4 separate regions of the Homo sapiens genome follow, and all the other regions are reported to be linked to region 4. The links are microRNA targets in miRTarBase. Many come from high-throughput screens and were not tested one by one. Region 4 holds a microRNA gene; each other region holds the end of a gene's coding sequence.

Region 1 (8,140 bases), not on the chromosome of region 4:
GTGTCTCTTATTTTTCTGAAGGGCCAGGAAAACTAAGCTGTAAAATACAGGAATTTTCCTGAATCCTCCAGCATTCTCTGGCATAAAAAAAAAGGGGGTCAGCTGAGACTACATCCCAGTAGGAGACCACCTGGTCTAAAATGAAACCACTCCCAGACTGGAACATGTTGACATGGCAGTAAGAAGCATCCATAGAAGAGGTTATTGCTACGTCATAAGGGCAAGTGTGTACCAACACCTTGAGTTTGCAGCCTGACATCTGGTCCACAGAGCAGCAATTTCAAAAGAGGAAACAATTGGCAGTTAGAGAAGGAAATGGCATAGCTACCATTGGAATTTTTGGTAATCTCAAAGAAAAAAAAAAGGAAACTGTATCGACTGAAAAGAAACACATGAAGTGAACAGGATAAGGAGAACTTTCGGCCTTATTTTCATAAATTGCAGAGAACTGTGAACATTTGTTATAGGGACATTTCGTGAGCAACTCAGGGACCCTAATGAGGAGATAAATGACTTGGAAGACTAGGATTTTCAAACATAACCAGTGAGGCAAAAATATTACTACTACCATTTGTATATACTATGACTCTTGATCATCCTGACTGGTGTGGTCTGAAGAAACACTTAGGACTACCAGACTGCCTCATTTCAAAAAAGAATGTAAGATGGCTTATAAGGCTAGGCAAAATATAGCCAAATAACATCATCTGAAGTATATGAGAAGGAAAAAGGGATCAAGAATGAGACTAATATAAACAATACCAAAGTGCCCTGTTTTCTAGATGGAGCACAAATTTAGCTCTTGCTTCTTATCGGCAAACATAAAAAGCCAACTCACAATGTACCTAAGATAGTAGCAAATGAACTGTTTACAAGAGGTGCAAATATTACAGTAAGGTCAGAATAACTTCAGACTCCACAAAAAGAGCCCATTGTGTGATGTAATCAACATTCCTACAGTTGACACAATGATGAGTTTCATAGAATTGTTTATAGAATGTCCTGCAATGCTAACCAATGGCTTCAAACTCAAGAGAAATTCTAGGGGTAAGTCAGGAAGTTACTGTCCAGGCGGTCTTTGCTAGGTGCTTGCCAGACTTAATTCTCAGGTACATTCTAAAGTATCTGAGGAAGTGATAAAAAGCAAATCCCTAACATTCCTTTATAAATACTGTTAACCACAGTCAAACTCACAGAAGATAGATATTAGCTAGCTGACGGTTCATGACTGGAGTTCAGCCACCCTAGGGTTCTAAGAAAAACTGTCTTAATGAGACATTAAGCTGGTGTAGGAGTGACATCTTTTAGGCAAACTTGAGTTTAATAATCAGTAGTTTCTGAGAGAATACTCTAGAGTTTGACCGAGGTTCTCTTTAGGAAAAAAAAAAATTGAATCTGTGCTCTCACACAGACAGATGGGCCATTTAGGTTCCAAAGTTCTGCTCAATATAACCTAGTCTTAATTAATTTTAGTTTGGAAAATGTTTAAGGAAGGCATAACAGTGGCCATTAAAAAATCTTTGCCCTCCCCGCAATTCCCAAAAAGCATCCATAGAAAGCCTAACTTTGAGTACTGTGGTTTCCTGATGTTCTTCCAAGTTAAATTATTTATGTAATGAACATTGAGGTATCTGAATGAAGTGACCTTCTGTGTAGAATTAGGAACCAAGTGAAATTTGGAAAACAGCTTGGTGTTTCTAAACTATAAGAGCTCTCTATATACCCAGGATATTAATTTTTTTTTGAGGCAGAGTTTCGCTCTTGTTGCCCAGGCTGGAGTGCAATAGCGTGATCTCGGCTCATTGCAACCTCTGCCTCTGGGTTCAAACGATTCTCCTGCCTCAGCCTCCCAAGTAGCTGGAATTACAGGCCCCCACCACCACACCTGGCTAATTTTTTGTATTTTTAGTAGAGATGGGGTTTTGCCATATTGGCCAGGCTGGTCACGAACCAGGACATTAAATTCTCATCAAATATTAATGTTCTAAAATGTTCCCACTTGTATTTTTTCTATTATGTTTTTGGGCATACTGAAATTTTAAATTTTCACGTAATAGATGTAGCAATTCTGGATTTACCTTTTAGCCTTAACAGGTCATTTCTCATCTAAGAATGAGATGTTCACCTACATTTTCTACTGTTTATTTTACATGTCTTTAAACCTATTAATCATTTTATATTTCTTTTGGTATACAGAGTAAGAATGGGAATTTATCACTCTCACCCCTCAATTAAGCAATAGTCCCAGGGCTATTTAAAGAATATTTCTACCTTTCCCCAGTAATGTGAAATCAAACCATTACCTTATTCTAATATCTTTTGATAAAATCTGTTTTTATGCTGATTCTATCCATTAATCTATATATTCTTGCATCCATTCCACACTGATATTAGTGTAAATAATATATCCAAATATACAACTTTACAAATCCCACTTCTCCCGTTACTCTAAAACTTTTCCTGGATATTCTGGCCCAGGTATTACTTCTTTATAGTTTCCATTTTTAATTTTGTAGTCTCTGAGAAAGGGCTCCAGTTCCATGTGCCTTATGCATTACGTACTTTGGAAGTACTGGATTCCTCAGACTTCAACTAAATGTTTTTCCATCACTTTGTCTCTCCCAGTGACAGGGTCTAGAGGTGGGGATAAAATGGAAGGGGTCAAGGAAAGAAAGTGCTGAATTCTTAGTTCTAGTTTTCTCTCAACACCAGAAATAACTGCCACTATTTTCTCCTGACTAACCTAAGAAAAACACATCATGCCACTCCCAATATTAGTTATCTTCAAAAACCTGTCTAGTCTAGTCTTATGAAGGAAGGCATATTCATTCCGTCTATCAGCAGGACTTTGACCCTGTGACTTGTTAAAAACAAAACAAATACTAACCTACTTATGAAAGAGCTACAGTCAAAAATCAAGTACTAAGGATGGATAGAAAAGAGAAAGACAAAGCCTAAGAATTAAAACAACAAAACAAACCAACAAAACTGCCAGATATAGAATCAAGCTTTATTTTTACTGAATGATAGTATAAGCTTTTAATATAACATAGGCATGTATAATATTGAAGATATTTTAATTTGAAAATAAAGGGAAAATACATTTAATTATTCCATTTTTCTTAGTTTTACTTTGAATTCCAAATAAGAATTTTAATACATTTTTGGCTGGGCACGGTGGCTCACGCCTATATCCTAGCACTTTGGGAGACCGAGGAAGGTGGATCACCTGAGGTCAGGAATTCGACAACAGCCTGGCCAACACGGTGAAACCCCGTCTCTACTAAAAATATAAAAATTAGCCAGGCATGGTGGTGCACACCTGTAATCCCAGCTACCTGGGAAGCTGAGGCAGGAGAATTGCTTGAACCTGGGAGGCAGAGGATGCAGTGAGCCGAGATTGCGCCATTGCACTCCAGCCTGGGCAAGAGAGCGAGACTGCCTCTCAAAACAAAACAAAACAAAAGCAAAACAATTTTAGTATCTTTTTTACTAAGATGTAAAATGTCAGGTGCTCAGGACAATTTTACTGCTGAATCCCTGAAAGACAAAGGGTATTTTATTCCATTTCATATTTCCCCCAAATTGTTCATAATGGTTACTTTTGAACATAAATGTCTGCGTAATTGTAAAAGAAATTATTCCATATATATACATATATATATACACACACACACACACACATACACACACACACACACACACACACACACAGACATATATACAGAATTTGGGTATTCCAATATTGTTATATTTAGGTTCTGGTACCACATTGAATGCCAGTTAAATAGCTTCCATTTGTGTCTCCTTGTTTCTACTATGACTATTAATATGGAAAGGCAGAACAAATAGTGCCATTAAATTTTTGTAAGATTTAAAATCAGAAAATCAGGCCAGGCACAGTGGCTCACGCCTGTAATCCCAGCACTTTGGGAGGCTGAGGCAGGTGGATCGCTTGAGGCCAGGAATTGGAGACCAGCTTGGCCAACAGGGTGAAACCCCAACTCTACTAAAAATACAAAAATTAGCCAGGTATGGTGGCAGGCACCTGTAATTCCAGCTACTCAGGAGGCTGAGGCAGGAGAATTGCTTGAACCCAGGAGGCGGAGGTTGCAGTAAGCCAAGATCACGCCACTGCACTCCAGCCTAGGTGACAGAGTAAGACCCTGCCTCAAAAAATTAATTAATTAATTAAATAAAATAAGAAATCTATTCTGGAAATCAGTCATCAAACACCACAATTTTGGGAATATAGTTTGGACGACCACTTCCTTTTCTGGAAACCATTTTTAGAATAAGAAAATGAGCCAGAATACACCTTGCCAAATAAGTTTCCCCAAATCACAATTATGATTTGGGGAATGAACACAAGAATGAACAAATTAAGTCATAAATGTATGCAATCATTTTTGAATGTCTTTGCAGAGAAATATTCAAAGTGGTAAGATGGATTGAACTGCCAACCAAAATTGTCAATCTTTATTTCAGTCTTCACTATTAAGCTAAAAAGGTAATTTTTCTCTTGAATGATGTGAAGAATTGAATTTCTTTCAACTGTTCCAAAAATCTGTAAGTACAATACTACCTAATCTCCTGTTATGCAACAGACTCCCATGTGGTACATCCAATTCATTACACAAAACACTGAATTGTCTGCAATGCAAGCCATGGAACACATCCAGTTTATGATATCAATGACTATATCCAGGATGCATTCCCGTTTTAAGGTTTTAGTATAAAGTCATTCGAGAATAGAATAATAAATGAACTTGGGTCCCACATCCTTGTAAAACATTATTAATTTAGATGGGCTGAATTTTTAATGCTTCTATTGGCTACCCACAAAAATGGGAAGTTTTGGCAAAGGAAAGGAGGAACGATTGAGGTAGAATTCAGTCAAGCAAGTACCTTTTAAAGCCAGATGGTAGATTTCTGACTGTGATTTCTATTACAGAAAAATCTGAATTTAGAGAACCTCTGTGGTTTTATCTCAACTTTAGCATATCTAAACATCCTGTTAAAAATCTTATTCTAAAGAATGGTATGATTGAGTAATGCAAATGGTCAGTATCTGAGTCGATGCAGAAAATAAAATATTAAGACATTTACCGTATATATAGGTGCTATCATTGTGGCAACTTCCACAATAACCTTTTAAGACTAATTAAGAAAATCAAATATAAAAAATATTTTTAACTACAAATAAATTATTTTTAAATTATACAGATTATTATATAATTATATGTAAAAAATAGTGCTTTATATTAAATAAGAACAAGTGATGAAGAAACAGGGCTCACCAGGTAAGTTTTAGGCTTCAGTTCAAATAGGAGAGAAAAGCATATATTCACTGCGGCATCCCTACTGAAGACATAAGTGCTTCCAAAATACACAGGGAGACTGGTCATCTTTCTTTTTCAATTGTTTCATCAAGAAGAATCTTTTTCAGGTGATAAAACTTACAAGCTAAATTAAAATGCACTCTACTCATTGGCAAGCTACATGAACAAGAATAATGTGATCACAGTACTTGGAAGTTTTTGATTTATAACTATACTATTCTCTACTTATAAGGCTGCAGTCTAGGAGGCAGAGCAATGAATCATTACAATTGTCTATCTGGGAAATGTCAAAAGATTAAGTAAGGGCAAAAGAAGAGAGAAAAGGAAAGAACACACATCTCTGTCCAAGAAATATTCCTCTATTAATGGAGGTATATCAGTAGCACATAAATCCAGTGCTAAATAAATAATAAGTACATTTTTAAAATCTTCAAGCAAAATCACTAATGAACCATAATGCTTAAACTTCCTTGGTGGAAAGCAGATGACCCTCTGAAGCTCTGATAACTAAATGATTCCTTATCCAACTATCATTTGGTAACCTACCCCTACATATTAAGCAATTTAAAAAGCAAATTTAAGTTGAGGAAATAATTAGATATTTGAACCAATCATGAATGGATCCAGCATTTTTGAAAAAGAACACATATAGTTTAATTGATACTTTGCCAATACAAAAATAAGCATCCACAGAATGTTTATTTACTGTTTAAATTACTCCATATTTTCATATACTGTGAACAGAAAATATATTTTACCCCACATATAGTAAAAGCAAACAAGTGCAATCTTTCAAACATTAAAATCATAATCAAATCTGTACAACAGATAAATAAATGTATACCTCTAACAGTTAGCTTGTAAAAAAAAATCAAACAAAAAGCAAAAACATTTATTGCCCAAATTCACCAGTTTACTTAAAATTCTACTTATGGTAATACAGCTCAATCGTAACAACTTGCATGTTTACTACACTGCACAAGTTTAGACTGATAAATATTTAAAATAGGAGGTGGGTAATAGGAAATACCAAATGGCTATAAAGAGCTTTCCAAATATTGGAAATAATATACGAAAATTAATTAGTGGGGATAACATATTAAATGGATCCACAGGGTAACTGGTATTACACTGGTATAGCTTGAGGAAAGGAAACAGGTGAACGTTTGGATTGGAAAAAAAATTTTGGCTTTTTTATAAAACGAAGCAACAATAACATCAACAATGACAAAACCCTGTCATGGAGCCTCAGAACTATTCTGTGAGACAAAGTGTACAAAGATTTAGGCTTGCATACCCGAAAACCACAGTTAGGAAGAAAAATCATTTCAGGAAACAACATCAGAACAAGAACACATATAAATTAAAGGCATACTGTTTATCATTCCACTTCATTGCACATATAAGAAAACAATACTGCCGTCATTCTTGAGTAAGAAAGTTTCCAATGAAAGAGGAAGTTCCACAATGAATACAGGTGCAGACAGTCTTATTACCACAAATTTAGTTATATCAAAACACTTGGTGGTGTCACTAAGTTAATTAAATTATCTATACTTTTTACTGGAAAGGTAATCATTTCCCTGCCTTCATATGTTAACTTAAAATCACTTACAAATGGAAATATAGATTCAGTAGAAAAGACTTCACATGCAATCCTATACAATGCATTCTGGTTTTTTGTTTGTTTGTTTGTTTTAGTATTTCATATTGGATATGTACATTTCCAATATATACAACCACATATGTTCAACAGATGTCACAGAACTGTCCTCTTGCCACAAACGTTTATATTTACATACACATTTATATCTCCAGATAGATGCTTTTCTCTTCTAGAGACACACAAAGGTAGCCTGAAGAGTTTAGGTTTTTTAGAATTTTTGGAACCTAATGTTTTGATTTATCTTGAATGGATGATAAGATGAGGAGTCCACAAAAAAATGCAGCTATACATGCCAACCTTTTCAAGAGAGATGAGTTATCTTTAGGAATAATAATCTGTGCAAGATCATTAGTGATCTGAGAAATTTCATGTGCCACACAAACAAATATGAAAGTGCTGACAATGATGTTGAGCATAGGGTTTCCAGGTATCAGTACCAAGATACCCCTTGTGTCCGCTGCCAGCCATATGTGATACTGGCAAATAAATAGCTAGGAGAAAAAATATTTAAGTCAGATATTTATAGAGGGTCCATGAATAAATTACAGTTTTCCCTAATTTAAACAATTTGGTTGCATAATAACATTAGAAGGCTTTCCTAAAACCATTTTATTCTGTCTCACTACTGGCCCTGAAAAGTCCACTGCAGTCTACTCCTTAGAACTCCAACTGCTAATACAATCTCTCTTATAAATGAGACCAAAGAAAATAATAGAACAATTATTCAAGAACTCAAAGAGGAATTTATTTTCCCTATTTTAAGAGACAATTTAATAAATCCTATACTCTAAAAACTCTAAAATATATGTTGTTATTACAATATAAATTGTTTTAAAACATTCTATTTCAAATAATAAAGCTTAGACTACTCAGAATACATTTTAAAACCTACTGTTCAAACTGATTTTGTAGATAATTTCATATTATGTATCTTACACAAAATGTAATGAGTTTATACTTTCTCCCACAATTTCCAATCATAATAAGGGTAAATTTTATTATGGTATGCATCAATAAACTGAATTCCAGTAATATATTTAATTATGGAGATGAACAAAAAATCAAAATCCCCTCAGTTTGATTTCATTTATATACCTGGTCTAATATTTTTCTCTCTTGGTCTCAGCATCTT
Region 2 (8,140 bases), not on the chromosome of region 4:
ACAGGACAGATTGTTGGACAACATAGATTTCTAGCCCAGCTCTTTTACAACTGGCTGGGTGCCTCTGGGCCAGTCATTCAGTGGCTGGAGGCCTCAAAAGAGGGGGTGCTTTAACATCTGTGACCTCTCTGGCTTACGGTGAGGATGAAACCCATGTGTCCAGTCTGAAAATATCAATGAGAAGAGCTGGTAGAGACAGCCCCTGTAAGGACTGATGGTTTCAGGGACTGCCGCCATTAGCCCATCTTCCAATGGCTGCCACTTAATTCAGGCGGCCTTGATTGGTGCCTGCTCCAAGTCAGGTCCTGGGCCAAGAGAGCCCAGGCTGGAAATGGGACCACAGAGTGAAGAACTCCTTTTCCCTACCACTCCCTGAGATCCCAGTCCAGATGGGGAGACAAAGGAGAGACCCTGCCTTGTCCTTCTGAGATTCATCCCCATGGAATGTCCCCAGAAAGGCAGGAAGTGCTAGGCAATTTCAGGAACAGAGAAACCTTTCCAGGGAGACAAGACCTGAGAGCACATTCCTGGGAAAGGGGACGCCCTGAGGGAAGTCAAGGAGGCCAGAAACCGAGTCCCCTTTTAAAGGTGGACGAGTGAGCCGCTAGGCATGCAGTCAGGCAGGGGGAGGACCACTGTGGGGTGTGCTTGTTTTGCCCGTGTAAAATATTATGCTTTAAAATATATTGGATTTTTTTTAAGCAACAGATCATATGGGAAAGAAGTAGAAAAGGTAAAAAAGTATAGCGTGAATACAAAAATTAGCCGGGTGTGGCGGTGGGCCCCTGTAGTCCCCGCTACTCGGGAGGATGAGGCAGGAGAATCACTTGAACCCGGGAGGCAGAGGTTGCAGTGAGCTGAGATTGTGCCACTGCATTCCAGCCTGGCAACAGAGCAAGACTCCATCTCAAAAAACAGTATAGCATGAGAGAGCCTCCCTCCCATCCTCTCTCCATCATCAAATTCCTCTCTGAAGAAACCCACTCACAATTTCCCGTGTGTGCTTCTCCCCAGCAATCACAGCACACAGGCGCATTCAGCCTGCCCCTTGCTTTTGTCCCTAAACATTGTCATTTGGCAGCAGTCTGTATCAGTCCAGAAAGGGTTTCTTCTGCTTTCTGTTGCAGAGAACTTGATCGTGTGGCTGAACTGTGATTTATTGATCAGGATCCCTCTTGAGGGATACAGAGGTTAGTTCCAGTGTTCACACTGGCCTAATCGAACCTCTTTATACTCTTTCTCCCCCTCTGCAGGGTGGCCGTCGTGACCTGGGGGGCAGCTGCTTGAAGGTGAGGGGGGTGGCCCCCCTTCGAGGGCCACGGAGATGAGCCTGGACCCTGGAGAAGGAGGCCAGGAGCCAGCCACTGGCTGGACAGGGAAGAAGACCCCAGGAGCCAAGCCCACCCCTTCTTTGTGTAGGGACCGGGGGACCATGGCCTGTTCCGGGACACTCTGGGCAGGGCCCTCGGGACATCTCCACCCGATCCTGGAGAGCTGTGAGGATCCATTCAGCCTGCCCAGCTCTGGCTGGTCAGAGACAAGGCAGAACTTTTGGAAAAACAAAGACTGTTGGTGACAGGGTGTGTGTGTATCTGTGCGTGAGTGTGAGTGTGTGTGAGAGAGAATTGGTGAGTTTAAAATAAAAGCTATTTTTAAATAAAAGACGTCGTTCTGAGCTGAGGAGAGTCCCGTGGACATCGGAGGTCAGAGGTGGGCCCTCCCCTGGACCTAGAGAGAGGCACAGATGTTCTGGGGGCTGCCCTGAGCCCTGGAAGGGTGGGGGTGGGGCGGGGGAAGGCAGGCAGAGCCCCCTCTCCGGGCGCCATAACCAAACTTTCCTCAGTCTGCTGTTTATCAGATGTTCTTAACAACTGTTAGGTGTCTGATATGGTTGGTAAAGAAATCTTAATTTTACTTATTTTTGAATAAGGCCTGTGTTCATTTCATTCACATGGTTCAAAACTCAGAAGGTACCAGAGGGTATGTGTTGAAAAGTCTCCGTGCCCCTGTCCTCCAGCCACCAGCTCTCCTCTCTGCAAGCAGCCTAGGGCACCAGTTTCCTGTGATGTCCCATTCACTATGAATGATCAGGCAAATACACAAATGACAGCACATCGTACACACTTTTGGCTCCTTCTTTTTTTCCTTAATCTAGCTTGGTATCATCCCAAGTCAGTACCTAAAGGGTATTTCATTTCTTCCTGAGCTGCTTATTATTCCATTTTGTGAACATGCCATCCTTTAACCCATCCCTCTTTGATGCGATCACCAACAAGCCATGTGGTTTTCCACAAGTGCAAATGAGTGCATGCTAAAGGGGAATATTCTTACCCCTGTGTTAGCTGAAATGCTTTAGAAGACCGATGACACCCAGAGGCACGTGGCAGGGTGACACCCTGAGGTCCGTCCACCTTTGAAGCCCAGAGCAGCTCCTTCCTTGCCCTGGAGATGCCCCAAGTGGAAAGCCAGCACCTGTTACCCCAATTACACTCCCAGGAGCCCTGGGAGGTGAGAGCTGGTGTCTTCCCCACTGCAGACCCAGCAGAGACAGCGATGCGTCAGCTGATCAGTGCAGCTAGGAGTTCTTGGCTCTCGGGCTGGGGCTGTGTCCCTGTGAGGTCAGGATCAGAGAAGCTCGAGAGGCCCGAGGGTGGGAGAGCCAGGGAAAGGCCAGGGCAGCCAGGCAGCCACCCTCTCCTCAGCAAGGTACATTCATATGCCTATTTCAACAGTTTATTTATTTAACAAACACTTTTATTTTTATTTTTTTAGAGACAGGGTCTCACTATGTTGCCCAGGCTGGTCTCAAACTCCTGAGCTCAAGTGATCTATTTCATGTTTACTGACTGCACTCTGGCCCCAGAGTCCACGTTCGTATCCCCTCTGTTCTGCCTCTACCCCACTCCCCTGCGTTTGACCATCTGAGCCTGAATTGTGGCTCCGATTTTGCAAATTGACAAACAGATTGTCAATACCCTCTGTGTGGCAGGCACTGTGCCAGATGCCACAGGAATGAGCCCGACCAACCTGGTCTTCCTCACAGATGAAAACCGAGGCCCAGGGAGATCAAGGGAGTTGTGGAATTGCCAGTCCCTAGGCTGGAGCAGGCCATGAAATTACCATGCTTAATTCCTTTGGTGTAAGAAGTAGAGGAAGGAGGGCCCCAGGGGGCCGGGGTCCCCCACCCAGGAGAGCTTTCCAAGCACCCTCTACCTCACTTCCCCGCTGTTTCAGGAACACTGGTCGTGCTTATCCTGTGTCCCAGCGTGGCTGTGCTTCCCCCTTTGGGAGCTGATTAGGAAAGCACATTGCTCCCCCTGCGCCTACCCTCCCAGGTACAGCCAGCCTCTGGCAAAGCCACAGGAAAAGGACTGTGGCCTTGTCAATGGCAGGAAGCCTGGGAGTGGGGGCAGAGCAGACACTTGGGTGCTCTGGCTGGAGGCCCACTCCGCCACCAGATTTGCTGGGTGACCCCAGAGATGTTGCTTGACCCCTCTGGGCCTCCCTGGCTCAGTCTCTAACTAGTAAGAGCAGCTAGAACAGAAAGATAAGTATTTGTTTTGCTTTGTGAGATAGTTTTTAATAGACCCTGTATGCACTGGTAAGTAATCCAAGTTGTATCAAATGGTATGCAGTGAAAAGTACAGACCTCCTCAGGCCCCTCCCCAGAGGCAGCTTCCTGAGTGTCCTTCCAAAAAAGCTTCTATACTGATAACTGTTTCTGAAAAAATATTTATAGGTTTCTCTGCCTGTGCTTTCATTGTAAAACAAATTCAAAATGCTATAAGACTCTAGAAATATCACTTATCCCAGAGACAGCCACAGTGAAGACGATAATCCCACCGAGTATTTTTTGTTGTTTTGTTTGAGATAGGGTCTCACTCTGTCACCCAGGCTGGAGTGCAGTGGCACAGTCATAGCTCGCTGCAGGCTTAACCTCCTGTCCTCAAGTGATCCTCCCACCTCAGCCTGCGGAGTAGCTGGAAATACGGGCATACACCACCAGGCCTGGCTAATTTTATTTATTTGTTTATTTTGTAGAGACAGGTTCTTACTATGTTATGCAGGCTGGTCTCCAGCTCCTGGGCTCAAGCGATCCACCTCAGCCTCCCAAAGTGCTGGGATTATAGGCATGAGCCACTGCGCCCAGCTCTGCAGCGTTTTTGTTAAACTAGCACACATACGCTTAACAAATCATTTAAACCATGCTAAGTTTACGCTTTTTTTTTTTTTTTAAGATGGATCTCACTCTGTCACCCAGGTTGGAGTGCAGTGGCGTGATCTTGGCTCACTGCAACCTCCACCTCCCGGGTTCAAGCGATTCTCCTGCCTCAGCCTCCTGAGTAGCTGGGAGTACAGACGTGCACCACCACGCCTGGCTAATTTTTGTATTTTTAGTAAAGACGGGGTTTCACCATGTTGGCAAGGCTGGTCTCGAACTCCTGACCTCAGGTGACCCACCCATGTTGGCCTCCCAAAGTGCTGGGATTACAGGCATGAGTTACTGCGCCCGGCCAAGTTTACACTTTTTATGGAAGTATAAGACACATTCAGGAAAGTGCACAGGGTGTAAGGGTACAGCTCAATGGATTTTCACAAGCTGAGCACACCTGTACACCCAGCATGGAGATCAAGAAATGCAATTAGCAGCTTCCCAGGAGCCAGCCCCTCTTGCACATCTACACATACCGGTTCTTTCCTTTGAATGAGACACAAAAAAGAATAAACTGACAATAAGTCTCCTTCTCTCCCAGCCACCAGCTCCAGTCCCCAGAGGCAATTGCTATGTTAAGGTAACCAGGATCCTATGGATTCCGGCAGAGATGGTCTGCATATATAGGCAAATTACATAGATATTGTTTTTCCACACAAGTGGTAGCATTTCACACACTCCTCTCTGCACTGGATTTTTTTTTCTTAACTGTACTTCTTGGAGACCCTTGGTTGCTTACAGAGCTGTTTCACACCTTTTCATAGCTGCATAGTGCTCCATTATGCATATTTTGCAGCTTGCTATCTTCCTGGTAATGGACAGTTAATGCCCATGAGCCTTTGTGAGCTGCAAGGTCAGCCCACACACGTGACCGGGGAGAAGCACAGGTGTGGTCTGCATATATAGGCAGCTCCTCTGGGGAACATTTTGTAACATTGTCCGCTCCCCCAGCATGCCTGTCGCCTCCGGGATGGTCCAGCCCAGCCAAGCTTCTCCAGGCCAACTTGAGGCCACAGGAGTAAAGCTGCTCAGGGAGAAGAAATCCAGGACTGAAGGGGTTGGAATGACCGACTCAGCCAGGCCACCTTGGACCCCAAAGGGTTACACTCTCCCTGCAAGTCTTGACACATGAAGCAGCAGCACAAGAATAATCTCAGAGTTCATCATTTCACAATGAAGAAAGTGAGACAAGACAGAGGGCAACCTGCCTGGGGTTCCCCAGCAGGTCCTTGGCCCTGTTGGGACACCAAGAACACAAATCTCCCTCCTTGCCATGCAGGGCTGTTTTCTCTGACTCCACAGTTATGAGCAGGAAGGCCTCAGAGGTCACCCATGGCAACCTGAAGCTCAGAGAGGAGCGGTGATGGGCCACGGTTGCACAGCATCTGGAGCTGAGCAGGGCTGAGAACACAGGACCTCTTGCACCCACAGCACTTCAGGTTCCCCTCATTGTCCCAGGCCACTCCCATTTTATGAGGCTTTTATTAGGTTAAAAAATGAAGCACTACAAAAAGAGAGTGCTGAAGACTATGGCATATTTGGTAAGTTAACTTTTTTTTTTCTTTGAGACACGGTTACACCCTGTCACCCAGGCTGGAGTGCAGGTGGCACGATCATGGCTCACTGCAGCCTCCACCTCCTGGAGTCAGGTAGTCCTAGCGCCTCAGCCTCCTGAGTAGCTGGGACTACAGGTGTGCACCATGATGCCCAGCTAATTTTTTATTTTGAGGGGGTTTCGCCATGTTGCCCAGGCTAGTCTCAAATTCCTGGGCTCAAGCAATCCTCCAGCCTCAGCCTCCCAAAGTGCTGGGATTACAGGTGTGAGCCACTGTGCCTGGCCTGGCAAGTTAACTCTTAACTACCTCCACACAGTCAGGAGCGTGATGCATTATTGTGGAACACCATATAATTAGAGGATTTATAGAAACATTGGTTCATGGGACGTACATATGAAGTTGGATGTCTTTGTTCAACCCCATCTGTGTCTCTTACGACTGTATATTTTACCTCGTGTAGTTGTGATATCAAGTATAGACCTGAACAGGTAAATGCGATACATGACTTTGAACTGGATCCTGTACTGCAGAGGGGAAAATGTGACAGGGGACCTTCTTGGTAGAGTTGACAATTTTTTTTTTTGAGACATGGTCACACAAAATTGGGATATGAACAATAGATTAAGGTATTGCATCAAAGTTAAATTTTCTGTATTTGCTAACAGCACCCTGATTGTGTCAGAGGATATCCTTGTGCTTAAGAATTACATCCTAGGCCGGGCGTGGTGGCTCAGCTTGTAATCCCAGCACTTTGGGAGGCCGAGGTGGGCGCATCACCTGAGGTCAGGAGTTCGAGACCAGCCTGGCCAACATGGTGAAACCCTGTGGTGGCAGGCGCCTGTAATCCCAGCTACTCGGGAGGCTGAGGCAGGAGAACTGCTCGAACCCGGGAGGCAGAGGTTGCAGTGAGCCAAGATCGCACCATTGCACTCCAGCCTGGGTGACAGAGTGAGACTCCGTCTCAAAAAAAAAAAAAAAAATACATCCTGAAGTACTATTAAGGAGAAGTATGATGTAGGTAACGTGCTCTCTCAAATGGTTCAGAAGAGAAATAATATATGTGTGAGAGAAAAGGATAGAGTAAATATGACAAACTTAAAATGTGGTGAATCTGAGTACAGGGTATATGGGAGTTCTCTGCACCACTTTTGTCACTTTTCTGCATGTTGTAAATGATTGCAAAATGAAAAGTTAAAAAGAAGTTGGGATCTTGGCCTACTGTGATGCGAGGGCTGCCAAATGGTGTCCTGGCCCCCTCTGATGCACCCTGGCTTTAGCTTGTCCAACAGACGATGGAAAATATCCCCAGCAGACCCAGGTGCCTCTGCTCGTGACTCTCAGGCCCCTGTGCCCCTTAGGAGGCTAAGGTGGTCCCATCCCCCGAGTCTCCTGCCACCATGATTTATGTCCCTATGAGCCTCAGCAGCTGTGAGCACAGGTCCCACTGGGCAGCCGGCTGGGGGGGCTGGCGTTTGCTTCTCAGCGTGTCTAATCCAGACCAGATTTGCAGACCCCATGGGCCTGGGATAGAGCTCCCAGGGGGCTAGGGTCAGAGGGCAGGCCAGCAGGGCCTGGAAACCAGGGAGGCACTCAGGATGAACAGGCTGCGAGACAGAAGACCTAGCCTATTCTAGGTTGGCCACTGCTCCTGTGTGACCCAGGGTAGGCGTCTGGCCCTCTCTGGCCCTTGCTTTTCCTCACGTCAGCACGGCCAGCAACTTTGTCAGCTGGGACACACTGGCCTTGTGGGAGGGAAGGCTGATAAAATCTAGGAGTTGTTTTTTTCTGAATGGCTTGGAAAAATGCCTGACTCTTTTGAGGACCTACTACGTGTCAGGCCTAGGCTATGCACTTTACATAAAATAAATACAGCTTCGCGGGGGGCAGTGGCTCATGCCTGTAATCACAGTGCTTTGGAAGGCGGAGGAGGGCAGATCACTTGAGGCCAGGAGTTCAAGACCAGCCTGGCCAACATGGCCAAACCCCATCTCTGCTAAAAATACAAAAATTAGCTGGGCATGGTGGTGCGTGCCTGTAATCCCAGCTACTCAGGAGGCCGAGGCAGGAAAATCCCTTCAACCCAGGAGTTGGAGGTTGCAGTGAGCCGAGATTGCACCACTGCACTCCAGCCTGGGCAATAGAGTAAGACCCCGTCTCTAAATAAATAAATACATACATACATACAGCTTGCTCAAAAGCTGGTTAGATATGTATTATTATTGCTCCATTTTATAGATGAGGAAACGGAGGCACAAGGAGGTTAAAGAACTTGGCCAAGGTGACACAGTGGCTGGTGGATTTGAATCAGATGTTCTAGCTGCAGAGCCCCACTGGGCTCTCAACCACCACCCCCACATGACCTCACCAGGTG
Region 3 (8,140 bases), not on the chromosome of region 4:
AGCAGGAGGCACAATGAACCAACTGCAGAATTCTCCTGGCTCATCTCAGCAGACATCAGGAATGTTCTTATTTGGCATTCAAAATAGTAAGAAACTCTAATTTTTCATTACTTAATTGGTCATTATTATTATTAGAAGGAAGCAGAGTGCAGTGGTGCGATCTCAGCTCACTGCACCTGCACCCTCTGCCTCCCAGGTTCAGGTGATTCTCCTGCCTCAGCCTCCCAAGCAGCTGGGATTACAGGTGTGCACAACCACGCCCAGCTAATTTTTGTATTTTTGTTAGAGGCGGGGTTTCACCATGTTGGCCAGGCTGGTGTTGAATTTTTGACCTCAAGTGATCCGCTGGCCTCGGCCTCCCAAAGTGCTGGGATTACAGGCGTGAGCCACCACACCTGTCCTGTATAGTTGTTTTAAGAGTACAGATTGTAGTTAGAACTCTATCACCTATAGACTATAAGATCTTGTACAAGTTATTTGGCTTTTATGGGTCTCAATTCTCTCATTTAAAATGGTGATAATATTACATACTTTACATGGATTTGGGGAGGATTAAATATGGCAATGTATAAAAATGTGTGTTTGCCATTTTAAGCTATAAACTTAAAAGGAAAATGAAGTCAGAATGACAGATAATACCTTACCCAGTTGAAGTAAGTAGTTTCTAAGGAGGTAGAAACTCATCTTTAATGTTTATATACCAAGGAATTTATATAGGACTTTTGATATTTAAGCAAAGTTGTATTTTTAGACTGCTTAAAGGAAACCTAAGATGAATTCCAGTGCCAGTCTGTGAAAACCTTTTTCTTGGACTATCAGGTGCCTAACTTTTAGTAATATACAAGGAGAATGCAGTAATGAATTTTCCCCAACAACTAATAAATATCTTTTCATGAATCTTTACTAATCAGATAGCTTCTATTTTTAATGTTTCTGCAGACTGTAGTCAGCTTTTAAGCTTCTGTTTTCAATGTCTCTGCAGACTGTAGTCAGCTTTTAACCTCTGGACCAGCTACATTGCCTGATCAGTTGATGGCCATAAGTCAGCCAGGCCAACCACAAAACGAGGGCCAGCCACCTGTGACAACACTTCTTTCTCAGCAAATGCCAGAGAATTCTCCACTGGCATCCTCTATAAACACCAACCAGAACATCGAAAAGATTGATTTGCTTGTTTCATTGCAAAACCAAGGGAACAACTTGACTGGCTCCTTTTAACTGGATATGTAAGTATTGCATTTTGGCTTCTTATTGAAAAGCATCAGATTTTATTCTTCTTAACAGATTTAGGTTAAGTAATAGTAGTTCTAATCTTTTAAAATGTGGCTTTCTCACAAGATGATACTTTTTTACTCTGAATAAAATTATTCTGAATGATAGCTTATGGTCATATAGTTAATACAGACCAGGCCGGGCGTGGTGGCTCATGCCTGTAATCCCAGCACTTTGAGAGACCAAGGTGGGCGGATCACGAGGTCAGGCGATCGAGACCATCCTGGCTAACATGGTGAAACCCCGTCTCTACTAAAAAATACAAAAAAAAAAAAAAATACAGACCAAACATCCCTAGTCCAAAAATCCAAAATCCAAAATGCTCTGAAATCCGAATCTTTTTGAGTGCTGACATGACATCTCAAGTGGAAAATTCCACACCTAACCTCATATGATAGGGTCATAGTCAAAAGTCAGGCTCACAACATGCAGTTTATTTGGTGTCCCCAAGGGTAAAAAAGATCCTTCCAGCTCCCTTCAGCTGTGATAGATTTTTTTAGGTGTATGTGAAACAGAAGTGAATTTCATGTTTGGACTTGTGTCTTATCCCCAAGATATCTCATTGTGTATATGTGCATATTCCAAAATCCAAAAAAGAAATCAGAAACACTTCTGATCCCAAACATTTTAGATAAGGGATACTCAACCTATATTGGACATTCCTTCTGCCTCTGAGCTTCTTTGCCTTGGAATAACAAAACATCTGATGAGTATGCAAAATGTGTTTCCTTTGTACTATATATTGGATATAACCATGCCTCACTTATCCCTTCCTCCAGAAATAAATATTGAGTCAGAAAAGTCTGTGGAAGATCAAATATGATAAAGTTTTACTTACAGTACCATAATATACTTTAGGATCATTCAGGGTGTCAGAAACTTTATAAATGCTTCCCTCCCTAGTAAGTTAAATTAAACTTTTTCTCTTTTTTAGAAATTCCACGAAGAAAATCCTGATTCCAAGATGTCCTGAGATCTTGTGGTTCCATGAGAATTATTACTTTAAAAACAAAACAAAATATAAAAAACTGTGTTTGAGTAAACTGATAGATTTTACTCTGACTGCAAAAGAGCACACCTATGCTGCTTGTTGCAGTAACTAACCACCAATGTTAACATCTTCATATTTTATATTCCTAATAACAGTGATGACTGAGAATCTATTTGAGTTTCCAGCTGGCAGAATTAATTGTTATTATTTTCCTAGGCGCAATTTCCTTAAACGTACAGTTTAAATTCAAGGCTGGACCACTCAGTTATTATTGCTATTAGAAAATAATATATCATGTTTACTTTTGTTCTTCATTATTTTCTTTCCTGCATTGTTTTAGTCAAGTAATGGCTTTTGAAAAAGTAAAGTTCAATAATAACTAAGGCTGTGATTTTTTTCAATATAAAAGGCACAGCTGTTGGCCAAAGTGAAGGAATCTTTTTTCAGTTTTATTGGAGAAACTGAAGGGTAACATTCTAACAAGTAAACTGTATGTGCAGATAAAAGTACTCTTGATTTAACACAAAGGCAGATGATACACTTATAAAACTGGGAACAGCTGGAATGCTTCTTGATTTTATTTTTTCAGAGAGTTGTTAGTTCTCTGGGTTTCTACTAAGGGGTTTAGCCATAACTGTGCATAGAAAAATAATTATCTGTAAAAAATGAAGGGGATAATATATGATAAATTATGTTCTGATATCCTCCTACAGTAGTTTAAATTGACAGAAAAATTTGAATGTTTTCTTCTTAACCCAGTCTTAGGCTGGTATTCCCTTTTTATATATATCTATATTACTTTTCACCTCTTTTTCACTTTACTTTAGAGAACTATTAATATACTACTGGCTTCATGACCCTGTAGCATCTTTGGCCACTTTAATCTAGGGTGACCTAGCAATCCTGCAGCACAGGGCAGAGAGTACTGTCTTAGGAATTATTAGGAGTTGATTCCTGAGAAACAACACATTTTTCCCCATGAACGGTGCTGTTCTGAAGTCTTCAAATTTTTCCCTCTAATAGGAAACAGTATAAATTTTAATTAAAAAAAAAAGGCAAACTAAAATTTCTTGAAATATCACTTCTCCCTGATCTGCAGTGAGTATAAATTCACTTGTCACCTCAGTGCTTTACAGTTTGAAGTGGTCACTTACCTGATGGTTCCCACAAGCCTTAGGCTTTACAGGGTTGTATCATTGACTTAAAATGAAGAATTAACTTGTGTTACATCTATAAAGAGCAAAATAACACACTCCAGAACTTGGCAGTTGTAGCATTAGTTATACAGTTTTGGGTGTTCTTGCCACCCGTGGGATGCCTGCTTCTCACTACCACCTGTGTCTGGACACATGCTTATGTCTCATTTTCCTTTTGGCATGTGGAAAGCTGTCAATGCAGTGTAAGGCCAACGTGTGTGTGGCTTCTATGTGTTGAGATAATGTTTTGGTATCCTTGTCCGTTTCATTTATTTTTTAAGTGTACAAAAAATAACCTGTTAATTGTTGAAGGCTACTTTTCTGTTCTTTTTTTTTTTTTTTTTCTATCCTGTACATTTAGTTGAACTGTGCGGAATTGTGGTGTTGGTTTTGTTTACACAGCCAGATTTTTCCTTCTTTTTGTTTTGTGATGATCTTCCTTTGTTCTTTGAATGTGCTCTTTTGTCTTTTTCTCTTTTTTCTCATGTTTTCTTCCCTCCACCTCCACCCCTTTCTTTCTTTCTCTCTCTGATTGAGAGGCATTGAATTACGTTTTCAGTAGTACAGGCTTCTTGCCGATATGAAGGGAACTTTTCAGAAAGAGACCTACTCTGGGTCATTTAATTTTGAATACAGTTTTCAATCGTTCAAGTTTTGGATGGTTTATATCTAATGTGTGTTTCATTTTTTTGGAAAGCTATATTTTGTATTTAGGAAATGGTATACTATTTTGCTATTTGTACTGAGTGAGTACATTGGCATAAATATAGAAATTTATATATATACATATATATAAACTATTCTTTTTTGCCACACATTTTTGTGGTAAATTTGTGAGTTTGTCTGATGTTCTACCACAACGTGGCGTCTGATAACAGTGAGGGGGGGTGGGGTTTGTTATGTCTTTATTGAGTATTTAAGTATCTTTTGAAACAAATGACCTGTTCATCTGTGGCCATTCCATCAGGCAGTTAGTTCCTTGATGTCAGTAGTGGGCTAAAGGCAGCTTACTGTGTGTTTGCTGGAGCTTTCACTCAGCCAAGTGTTAGAGTCAGGAAACCCATTGAGGCAATGGCGTCAAATGGTGTTTCACAAGAATGAGCCATTCAGTCTTTGCTCACTATATATTTAATATTTTATTATTGTTGTTATTGTTATTATTAATTGGCTTTCTGTATTCTATGCCTTTTATTTATAAAGACACTAAGAAAACCCATGTTTGTAATTTTAATAACATTTTTCCCATCTTGTAATATCCAGAGCTACTTTATAAATTCTCTGAACCAAAAGTATTTTCCTCAGTGTATCTCTTCTCCCCCAGCCCCTATTGGGAAAAATTACCCAGTATAGTTCAGGTTATGAGGAGGATCAGCCACACAATCCAGTGCTTCAGTTTGAAAATGTAAAATTCTAACCCTAAAGTAGGGTTGGTTGAAATTTCAGACAAAGCAAACCCAGCAGGTATAAAAAGTAGTATAAATACAAATCTGTAAGTTATTTTTGAATTTTCTGAACTTTTTTCTAAGAGATTACATAGGAGACTAAAGAAATCTATCTGTTCAAGTTCTAATTAGGATGATTGTTAATACTGCACTGTGGATGAAGTGGCGACTGGCTTGTGTGCTGACTTCTGTGGTTTAGCAAGAGGTTTATTGTTATCAAATGCTAATTGGCAATGCCAAGTCACTGGGACCAATTTTCTGTTTTATAATATCTAAGTTTAGAACAGAATATATACCTGAACTGTAGTGGTTTGATCGGATGGAGACAGAAAACCCGATTTTTATTCTCATAAATTTTGTGGTTATTTATACAAGGGCTGTGCTATGCTACCATATTCTTGTTCAATAATAATAGGTTTGTTGTTTTTTTTACATTGTTAAATGTTCCTTACCCCTAAAGGTCAATGTTAAGTACAACATTCTGAAAATACAATTTGGCTACGAAGAGTATTCATCTTCTTTGAAGCTCAGTGGTTGATATTTGTGCTAATAATGCAATTTCCTGATTACTGTTACAAGTTATAGCTACATATGGGAGAGACTCAGTGAGCCAGCAAAGGCCATAGAAACAACAATTTATTAAATGTATTTATGGCAGAAGGACCTAAATAAACTGTGAGCCACCTTTTCTTCTTTATATTGTTACATTTAAGTGTTCTTGCTTTCAGCAACTCACATTAATGCTTGGAGCTTATCTCTTTCTCTCTCTCTCTCTCTCTCTCTGTGTGTGTGTGTGTATGTGTGTGTGTGTGTGTGTGTGTTTCCTTATTGTCATTCCATTATATATCCACACCAACATGGGTGACGATAATTCAAAGTCATATTTTGCCTCTAAGCTTGATCATGTTACCTTTATGATTAAAGTATCATGTTATTTAGCCAATGCAAATCTGTTTTAAAACAAATAGTTTAAAAAAAGAACAAGTTTTTAAGGGCTTTATTATAGAAGAAGTATTAATGAAGGACTTTCCTTCCTCCCTCCCTTTCCTCCCCTCCCTGCCTCCCTTCTTCCCTTCCATCTCCCCCTCCTCCCTGCCTTCTTTGTTTCTCCTTCCCTTATTCCTCCCTCCCTCCTTTCTCCCTTCCTTCCTTTCTTCCATTCATCCTTCCTTGCCTTTTATTTTTATTTTTTGTAATATCACATGTGCTGTAGTTTGGAATTTTATTCTAGTGCATTTCTTGCTCATCAGAACCTCAGCTAATCTACCTAGGAAAAATAGTATCAAAGGAAATGAGAAAGTTGTATCTGAGTCCCTCCAGAACTAAGATAATTCTTTTTGACCATTTAAGCCTTTATAAATGCGTTTTGACCATTTAAGCCTTTATAAATGCTTGTTTTAGGAAAGTGAATCTGTTAGATGCATCAACAAATAATGACCAGGACAAAACGATTTAATAATTAAAGTCTCAAATCACCATGGTTATACATTTTCACCAGAAATAGTAATCTTACAATTTTTCATTTTTCTGATGAAGATTTCTGTTCCAATATCTGTTTCCTAATAGATTTTTTAAATTAATTAGCTTTCCTCTGCTTTATGACCACAGGTTTTATCCCTAACCGAGACAGCTGTCTTATATCTGCATGCCTTAGACTGTGTGGAGGGACTCCATGAAGAAAGACCATAGGTTAGAAAAATAACTCATAGTATATACCCTAGTAAGTGGGTTAGTAGAATCTCATAACATGTATTAAAAAGAGGTTTTCTTCTCTGCTTGTTTGTGTCACTAGAGCAAAATTGTAGAGATAATGCTCATAATGCAGTAAATATCAGAATAATATCTACAATATCATTTGTGGATGGTCCCAGGTCCCAGTGCTCTAGTTACTTTACTTCTTTTTTTTTTTTTGAGATGGAGTCTTGCTCTGTCTCTCAGGCTAGAGCAGTGTGCGATCTCAGCTCACTGCAGCCTCCACCTCCCAGGTTCAAGCGATTCTCCTGCCTCAGCCTCCCAAGTAGCCAGGATTACAGGCACCCTCCACTAGGCCCGGCTAATTTTTTTTGTATTTTTTTAGTAGAGATGGGGTTTTGCCATGTTGGCCAGGCTGGTTTCGAACTCCTAACCTCCAGTGATCCACCTGCCTCGGCGTCCCAAAGTGCTAGGATTACAGGCATGAGCCACCACATCCGGCCTAATTACTTCTTTAATCCCCATTTATTTTTATGCCATTCTAGCCTCATTTATTAATAAAATTATGTTTTTACTTTCTCTTTCAGGAAATTTTTTAAATTAATATTTTATATCTAGATCTAATGCTATGGAAAAGTGCCTTTTTATCATTTATAATTTCATTTTTCACTATTTCCAAAAACACATAAACAAATAGTTTCAGTAGGTCCCAGCTTTTACTTTTTCCATTTAAACCTTCTTTTCTCCATTTCTTCCCTTTGGCTTAAGAATAAAAGAAAAGGTACATTGCTAGAATTGTTTCTTTGGGAGAGGGTAAAAGATTACAGAATTAGACTGTTCAGCCTTTATATAAACTAAATTTGTCTTCATCTCAACCAGCTAATGGTAGGTCTTATCTGAATACTCATGAGAATTTTAGCATCTGTGAAACTCCATGCACCAGATGTGTGTAAATTTCAGGAAGAAAGTGTTGAAAGCATTTTCTCTGATGTTAATTAGATGGAAATAAATCACTAAAACATAGTTTAGGTAAAGCCTGATTATGCCACTTTTTTTTAACTAGACAGGGCAAAGTTGTTTATGTTAGTGTACTTCTTGTCTATCCTCAGTTAATTTACCTAGACAAAAAGTGTCAAAGGAAATGAGAAAAAGGTTATATCTGACTCCCTCCAGACCTAAGATAATTCCTTTTGATCAGATACAGTCAGATGGAGTGCCTTGGTTTTTGTTAATTTTGCCTCTATTCCAGCTCCTTACCACAGCGGTGGTGCTTAAAGAAAGGATCATCAGCAACAGGTCAGGATAGTTCTACCTTTGGGATAGGGCTGCTTTCCCCGTGCTAGTATTTCTGTGACTGTTAGTGGCACTGAGGACTGCAAACTTTTATGCAATATTCTTAATACCCTATTGATATTATGCACTTTAATCATTCCAAAGAAGCCAAGAATGCTGTATAGTGATGATTCCTTCCTAATGAATTCATCTTAACTATTTAGAATGTTATGTCCCTTTTCTTTTGGATAGCCAACTTGGTATAAATGTTATAT
Region 4 (8,140 bases):
TGAGTACACCAACAGCAGATTCAAATTACTCAGTCTTCACAGTTAGCAACTTTAACTCAGTTCTTATTTAAAAACAAGGAAGTGAGTGGCCAAAGGAAGTAAATTTCTCTCTAGCATAACACTGTAGAGCACGCTAGTGGTAACACCCACTTTATTTGCAGTCCCCACTAGACAGCACACATTAGGTTACTCATCTCTTTCATTCCTTCTGTCTCCCCAGTGGCTAACATCATGCCCAGAACAGCAGAGTTGGTATCCAAATATTCACTGAATAGACAAATAAGACTCAATACAAGGGACTTGCCACTTGCCTAGTGCCCACATTGTGTCTGCCACTTGCCACATGCTTTCGATAGATTATCCCTTATCCACACAACTCTGCAAGCTCTGTATTATTTTTGGACACTTCACAGATGAAGGTCAGTGGGATTAAACAGCTTTCTCTAAGCCACACAGCTCATGAGTAAATTCAAAACCGGGTCTGTGTAATTTCAAAATTCCTGCTTATCTCACTCCAAACACTGCCTCTCCCTGGTCTGCACACAATGGTCTGAGTTCTAGGTTTCCGGCCTCACAGAGTAACTCTCATCCATCTTCTACCTGACAGTCTTTCAGAAATGAAGACTTTCCAGAAGCCAGTGGTCAGTCTGACCCTTTACACCGCCACTGTGGCTGTAATGTGCTTCTCCACAGTGTTTTGGCCTGCTCCAAAGTGGCTCATGCAGACCCTGCCTCTCCTCGCTACTTTCACACACAGCCTAAGAGGTGGCGTCATCACACTCCACAGCATCTCACCCATGACGGCGTCCTCGAGCTGCACAGACTGTGCGTCCGTCCTCAAAGGACAAAAGGCATAGGTCCATAGAGCTGCTGTCCAAAAGCATCACAAAGGGAAGCCAGCAAGCACTGCTTTCTATCACAGGGGAGAAGTTCCCAGCTGATTGCTGGCAGTGCTGCCACTGTCTTTTGCCCGTCAGAGGGTGAGTCAGAGAGAGGACTCAGGAAAACCTACTGTATTAGGCCATTCTCATGCTGCGATTAGGACAAACCTGAGATTGGGTAATTTATAAAGGAAAGAGGTTTAATTGACTCACAGTTCTGCAGGGCTGGGGAGGCCTCAGGAAACTTACAATCATGGTTGAAGGGGAAGCAAACACGTCCTTCTTCACATGGCAGCAGCAAGGAGAAGAATGAGTGCCCAGTGAAAGGGAAAGCCCCTTATAAAACCATCAGCTTTCATGAGAACTCACTCACTATTATGAAAATAGCATGGGGAAAACCGCCCCCATGATTCAATTACCTCCCACCAGGTTCCTCCCACAACATGTGGGGATTATGGGAACTACAATTCAAGATGAGAAGTGGGTGGGTACACAGCCAAACTATATCATCTGCATAGCAGGTGGCCTTGTCTCCCCATTCCTGGGCTCCCCCAGGGCAACCTGTCCCCCATCCCACTCACGAGGCTTCCCTCTAGGAAGCCGCTAAGAAGAGACCTGCCACCCACCTGCTTGCTCCACTTTGAGTGGGAACCACACCAGGGTCAACCTCAGAAACATCTGAAAAGTTGGAAGTAAATTCAGCAGTCTAGCAAAAGCAGTCTTCTGCAACTGAGGAATCCAGGTTGAGCGCTGCCATGACCTGTATTTGAAAAGCTGCCACCTTCCAATCAGGCCAGAGTTAAAGAGCAATTTGAAAAGAGCAAGAATTTCCAAGCTATAAAACTAGGGACATGATTCTAAGAGGATAAAACATTTTAAGATTGGTTTAAAAGCTTTTGAAAAATTTAAGGCCAGGCATGGCAGCTCACATCTATAATCATAGAGCTTTGGGAGGCCGAGGTGGGAGGATTGCTTGAGGTCAGGAATTTGACACCAGCTTGGGCAACACGGGGAGACCCCATCTCTACGATTTTTATTTTTTTTTTAATTAGCTGGACTTGGCTGGGTGTGGTGGCTCATGCCTGTAATCCCAGCACTTTGAGAGGCTGAGGCGGACGGATCACAAGGTCAGGAGTTCCAGACCAGCCTGGCCAATATGGTGAAACCCTGTCTCTACTAAAAATACAAAAATTAGCTGGGCGTAGTAGCACATGCTTGTAGTCCCAGCTACTCAGGAGGCTGAGGCAGGACAATCACTTGAACTTGAGAGACAGAGGTTGCTGTGAGCCGAGATCGCGCCACTGCACTACGGCCTCGGTGACAAAGTGAGATTCCATCTCAGAAAAAAAAAAAAAAAAAGCTGGACTTGATGGCATGTGCCAGTAGTTCCAGCTACTAGGGAGGCTGAGGTGGGAGCATCACTTGAGTCCAGGACTTCAAGGTTACAGGGGCTATGATTGTGCCACTGCACTCCAGCCTGGGTGACAAAGCGAGACCCTGTCTCTTAAAAATTTTTTGTTTTTAAATTCAAACCCAGTTTTCCTCAGGACTCTTATTAACAGCTATCTAAGGAATAGGAAGGGATGCCCTCAAACCGGGCAGAACGAGATGGAATTCTAAGTCATTTTGTCTTTTGCATTTCTGAAAAGACTTTCATTTTTCAAAGGACATCAAAACTGAAATGCCTTATAAATCCCTTTGTGTTTCTGCGTTCTGTTCAATGGCATCAATAAGATGGATGATCAGCAAATGGCATCAAACTCCATTTGTATTCTTATTAGAATAATAACACGTAAAATGATATGAAATGAAACAGCAGATTCCAATGACCTTGTAGCCCAATTCAATTACTATTTCACTAAATAACGACAAAACTGACAGTCCTCAAGCTGCTGAATTTATGAATTAAATTCAACTTCTCTTCTACATTCTGAGCAGGACTGAGTGGAAAAAGAAATGGTCAGTGAGGACTGGGGAGGAGTTTCCTTCTCTTTGCTATTTAATGCAACATCGCCAAGCCCACTGGAGGGAGGGGTATGGAAAGACAGTTTAAAAAGGAATATCAGGACCAGAAGGGAGAACTGATGGCCAGGGCCCTTGCTATAGTTTGCTCCTGCAGATGAGACACTGCTTTGGAAAATTTTATCATTAACCAAACTGCACTGATGCTAAAAGTCAATAAAGCCAAGTATTAAGTTGGAGCAAAAGTAATTGCAGTGTGTGCCATTACTTTTAAATGGGAAGCACTGCAATTACTTTTGCACCAAACCAACAGCATCAATCTTGCCTGCATCTTAAGCAAAGGCTTAATGAGAAAAAAAACATACTTGAGACTACTAAAGCATTATACAGTCAGTCCTCATTACTAGCAGATTCTGTATTTGTAAATATGCCCATCACCTAAAATCTGTTTGTGACCCTCAAATTAATACTCCCAAATGTTTGCAGTCATCATAGACATGGCAGGACAGTGGACAACTGGAGTTTCCCAACAAGCACGTTCCCAGGTGGCGTCTAACTAAACAACACTCTGCTTTTTTGTTTCAGTTTTCATACTGTAAGGAAGCACCCTTTCCACAGTCTTTTTAGTGCCACAAGTTTCGCATTTTTGTGTCTTTTTGTGTCTGTGTGTGCACCTGCATGCGTGTATGTGTGTGTGAGTGACTTCACTATTTAAAATGGTCCAAGCCAGGTGCAGTGGCTCATGCCTGAAATCCCAGCACTTTGGGAGGCTAAGGCAAGAGAATTGCTTTGTGACAGGAGTTCAAGACCAGCCTGGAATATACTAGTCATGTTCATTGGGGAATTAAGACCTCAAAAACATAGCCAGACCCTGCCTCTACAAAAAAATAAAATTAAAAAATTAGCTGGGCATGGTGGCGTGTGCCTGTAGTCCCAGATATTTGGGAGGCTGAGGTGGGAAGATCACTTGAGCCCAGGAGTTTGAGGCTCCAGTGAGTTGTGATTGTGTCACTGCACTCCAGCCTGGTCAAGAGGGCGAGACCCGGCATCTACAAATTTTTTCTTTAAATAAGAAAAGAGAATAAATTTTAAAAATAAGAAATAAAATGAAATGGCCCTTAAGTATGGTGTGGAAGTACTATTTGGCATTCCTAGGCTCAAGAAGGCTGTGATACACCTTACACAAAAAATAAGTGCATTAGATAAGCTTAGTTCAATGCTAATGAATCAATAATATATATTTTAAAAGGTGTCTTCAAACAAAAACACAGGTAAAATAAGGATTTTTGTTGATTGGTTGATAAAAAGGTAACCAAAGACTCACAGGAACCTAACCCTGTATTTCCCCTAGGAAATTCAGTATTAACTAATAAATTCAGGACTCACTAATGCAGTATTTAGGGCAAGTTTATAGAACATCAATACTGTGAATAACAAGAATTGACTGTATTTTCAAACTGCAGTAAAAATGCCATAAGTATGTAAAATAGGACTTGTAGGAAGACAACAAAGTATATTTAGATGTAGCAGGTTCATCTTTTTTACTTTTTTTGCAGATGTGAGAACTTGACAATTTCTAACCACTGGACTTAGAATGGAGAACACAGCCAATCTGGGTGACAGAGCAATATTCCGTCTCAAAAAAAAAAAAAAATTAGCTGGACTTGGTGGCATGCACCAGTAGTTCTAGTTACTTGGGAGGCTGAGGTGGCTGGTCATGAACTCCTGACCTCAAGTCTCCCAAAATGCTGGGATTATAGGTGTGAGCCATTGTGCCTGGCCAGCAATGGCAATATTTTCTTACTACCAACTCTCAGAAAACATACATTATTCTCCATAATTATCCAATAAATTTGGACCCATCTGAAAATAAGCATCAGTCACTTTTCAGTTTATACATGTATGCTATTAGTCATTACTCTGGTAATATGTGAAATGTAAATCATTGCCTTATTACTTACTGGATATGGGCTGTTTTTTGGTTGAGGTATGCGTCTAATTTATTGGTACTACATTAGAAAATGCCCTACACCAAATATCTGCTCTGATTGGACTAAGATCCTACATTTTTATATTTGGGAATATTGCTCAACTTGAGAAAGGCAAGATGTCCCAATCCCTGCAACAGTAACTTGGACTTTTTTTTTTTTTTTGAGACAGAGTCTTGTTCTGTCGCCCAGGCTAGAACACAGTGGCACGATCTCGGCTCACTGCAACCTCCATCTCGTGTGCTCAGGCGATTCTCCAGCCTCAAGCCTCCCGAGTAGCTGTGATTACAGGCATGTGCCACCACACCCGGCTGATATTTGCATTTTTAGTAGAGACAGGGTTTCACTATGTTGGCCAGGCTGGTCTCGAACTCCTGACCTCAGGTGATCCACCCACCTTGGCCTCCCAAAGTGCTTGGATTACAGGCATGAGCCATGGCGTCCAGCCAATAACTTGGACTTCTAATTAAAGATGTGACGTGGGCCAGTTATGCATAGAGGTAAGCCAAGGGCCTCTTATGTGACACCCTCACTGGACTGGGACAGATTCTGCCATGTCATTTACCTTGAGTACTCCAAAAGGAAGAACATAAAAATAATAATGTAATGAAAGTAGCAAGGGTATGTTTAACTTCAAAGAAGATCATTAATACTTAGCCTGGACTGTCTGAGAATATGACTAGAGAAAAGGGAATGAAGGAAAGAGGAGTACTTAATCTATGCTTATTGTTCAAATGCTCTTCTCTGCTCACACTTTGCAAATGTTAATAAGAGTCTGATCTCTTGATAGTAACCATAGGGAAATTTATCAGCCTCTAAACATAATTTCTCCCTTTTCTCTATCCTGAGTCTCCAATGAGTTGGGCAAAATGCAGAGGCATCTCATTCATTCAGAAAATGCCATCTTTTCTCTCTCTCATATATGTAGTGTTGCTAAAATTAACTAAAAAATTAACTAGTTTTAATTTTCTTCTTCTTAAAGGCTTCTGTCCATAACTGTCCAAGGCGCAGAAGGGCACAGACTTTTACGCAATGAGAGTCCCCTGACATTCTGCTGTCTAAGACTTCATTCTCAGAGTGCAAGGACCAGAGAAAGAACTGGGGTGGATGCTATTCCACGTTTGCTCTTTTCATTAAGACTTTTCAAAGAAGACTTTATTCCAACATGCATTTAAAAGAAAAAGAAATGAAGAATTCTTCCTTCAGGCGAATAACTCATAAGGGGAAAAAAACCCTTGAATATGATTTATTTCACAGGGATCATTGAAGAGCACGTGAAAACCGATCTCTGTTGAAATTCCGAAATACTTGTTAATGCCACCTTGAAAGAAGTAAAGAATTTCGAAGTCAGTTATTAAATAAATCCATGACTATTTGAACAGCTATCTCAATTTGGCTGGAATGTGGCTAGAATTCGAGTTATGTACATTGAGTTTGAGTAGAATGTGGCTTTGACAATGAGTCAACCTTAGTATTTTCTTCCCAACAATGATGGAGCGGCTTGGTGAATGCAGAGCTCCCTAGAGTAGCTTTTAGAACTCGTACTCTCCTTTCAACAACAGATTGCTCAGTTGAGAAGTTTTAGAACTGAATGAAAACTCAGGCATCATTTAGTTATTTGTGCAACTTGAATATTTTTTCCAATAAGATAACCAAGGCCAAAAAAATTAAGTGGAAAAAATGTCACACATCGAGTTAGAAAGTAGAACTAATCTAGATTCAAGCACTCCTAGCTACTAGTCCAGAGTTCTTATTACTAACCTGGACCTGCAGTGAGCACCACTGACATCCCTAACTGAGTAGTGACTTCCCTAGTAATCTCCCTTATCTAATTTTACTGCATAAACACATTGCTATCTGTTACAGGAATGGGATCTTAATCATGTAGAGAGAAGGGAAAACAAGGCATGAGGAACCTTTGAACCTTATTGCTAGGCTTCAAGTAGAGAGATGTCAGGTTGTCTCCCGAGTCCACCCTTCCCACCCAATTTCCTACTCTCACGAGCATCCCATGGGCTTTGGTCTCTCTGTGCCTCTTGTAACCAACCTAAAATGGAGATGCATAAAAGTGGCCTTTTATGCCACTTTTAAGTGGGCTATCTTATCTTGTATAAGGCTAGGTCATACTTTTGAATAAAACAATTTTTATTTGAAGAGGCTGGGACCAAGAAATATATATAGCTAGAATGGGCTGCGTACAGGGGGAAAGTTTATTAAAAGGCCTGCGTGTGCACAGTTTCATTATTCTCACTCTTTTTTTTTTTTAAGACAGGGTCTCACTCTGTCACCCAGGCTGAAGTGCAGTGGCACAATCTCGACACACTGCAGCCTCAACCTCCCCAGGCTCAGGTGATCCTTCCACCTCAGCCTCTCCAGTACCTGGGACTACAAGTACATGCCACCACGCCTGGCTAATTATTATAATTTTTTGCAGAGATGGGGTTTTGCCACGTTGCCCACGCTGGTCTTGAACTCCTGGGTTCATGTGATCTACCCACCTCGGCCTCCCAAAGTGCTAGAATTACAGGTGTGAGCCACCGCACCATCCTATTCCTACTCTTCTTTCCTTTAGTAAAGAGTAAGTATAAACTAACAAATTGGTTATAGTCAGAACTGAAATTAGCACTTATGATGTGGAATCTCAATCAAGATTCAGATAGCATGTTGGTTATATTGTGAGGTTTTTTCAATATATATGACCATGAAATTTCACTCCTAGGGAGGTGATTACTAAGTTCAATGTTACTGAGTTTCTTACTCAAAAACTGTGTTGATATTTTTCCTTTCAGAATGACATATTTTATGTCAATCAAAATAGAAAATAAGTCCCAAATTGAATGGCACTTAGAAAAATAACTTTGATGCCAAATTGGAAAAGAAAGCTTCAAAAGTACTTTGAAAATGGAGCCAAACTACCAATTAAAGGAAAAATTATAGACAAATTAAGAATATGCTTTTTCCAATGACACTGAACCTCAATCATTTTCTCCATAATGACTTGAAAACCCTGTAATTCTCATAGAAATCTGGCAGTCTCACCCATTTCCCCTCAGCAGAATAAATAGTGAAGTATATGGTGTGCTTTGTAGATCAAAAAAATATTGCTGTATGATATAGGTGGGGGGACACATTCCACAGTTACTCCCAAATATCATCAAAAGAAAGAAATCTGGCTGGGTGCAGTGGCTCATGCCTATGATCCCATCACCTTGGGAGGCCAAGGCAGGTGGATTACTTGAGGTCAGGAGTTCGAGACCAGCCTGGGTAACATGGTGAAACCCCATAACTACTAAAAAAAATAAAACAAAA

Evidence for each region. The annotated mature microRNA hsa-miR-603 reads CACACACUGCAAUUACUUUUGC and lies in region 4 at 3,083-3,104, opposite strand. An mRNA with a match to its seed (bases 2 to 7 or 8) in the 3' UTR can be bound and repressed. Matches are read on the target gene's strand: a 7mer-m8 pairs with bases 2 to 8, a 7mer-A1 pairs with bases 2 to 7 and ends in A, and an 8mer does both.
Region 1: the mRNA of CASD1 is a reported target of hsa-miR-603. The part of its 3' UTR that is shown has no 7-base or 8-base seed match.
Region 2: the mRNA of TCF15 is a reported target of hsa-miR-603. Seed matches in the 3' UTR shown: 7mer-A1 at 1,585-1,591 and 7mer-m8 at 1,608-1,614.
Region 3: miRTarBase lists NFAT5 as a target of hsa-miR-603. Seed matches in the 3' UTR shown: 7mer-A1 at 5,693-5,699 and 7mer-A1 at 7,539-7,545.

What each region holds. Positions count from the first base shown.
Region 1 is chr7:94,554,851-94,562,990 of GRCh38, reverse strand. CASD1 (CAS1 domain sialic acid O acetyltransferase 1) reads right to left here. Exons shown (of 18, transcript NM_022900.5): 18 at 5,972-7,499. The coding sequence ends at 7,233. LOC105375404 (a long non-coding RNA gene) reads left to right here and starts at 4,496. Exons shown (of 4, transcript XR_007060433.1): 1 at 4,496-4,569. RefSeq lists an enhancer at 6,832-6,881.
Region 2 is chr20:597,779-605,918 of GRCh38, reverse strand. TCF15 (transcription factor 15) reads left to right here. Exons shown (of 2, transcript NM_004609.4): 2 at 1,254-1,662. The coding sequence ends at 1,328. Among named protein-coding and RNA genes, the nearest start is that of TCF15, 8.5 kb to the left of the region's middle.
Region 3 is chr16:69,694,154-69,702,293 of GRCh38, forward strand. It overlaps NFAT5 (nuclear factor of activated T cells 5), which reads left to right. Exons shown (of 15, transcript NM_138713.4): 13 at 1-86; 14 at 983-1,226; 15 at 2,207-8,140. The coding sequence ends at 1,218. Among named protein-coding and RNA genes, the nearest start is that of SNORD13H, 10 kb to the right of the region's middle.
Region 4 is chr10:24,270,709-24,278,848 of GRCh38, reverse strand. It overlaps MIR603 (microRNA 603), which reads right to left and starts at 3,164; the gene lies at 3,068-3,164. All of the region lies in intron 2 of KIAA1217, which reads right to left.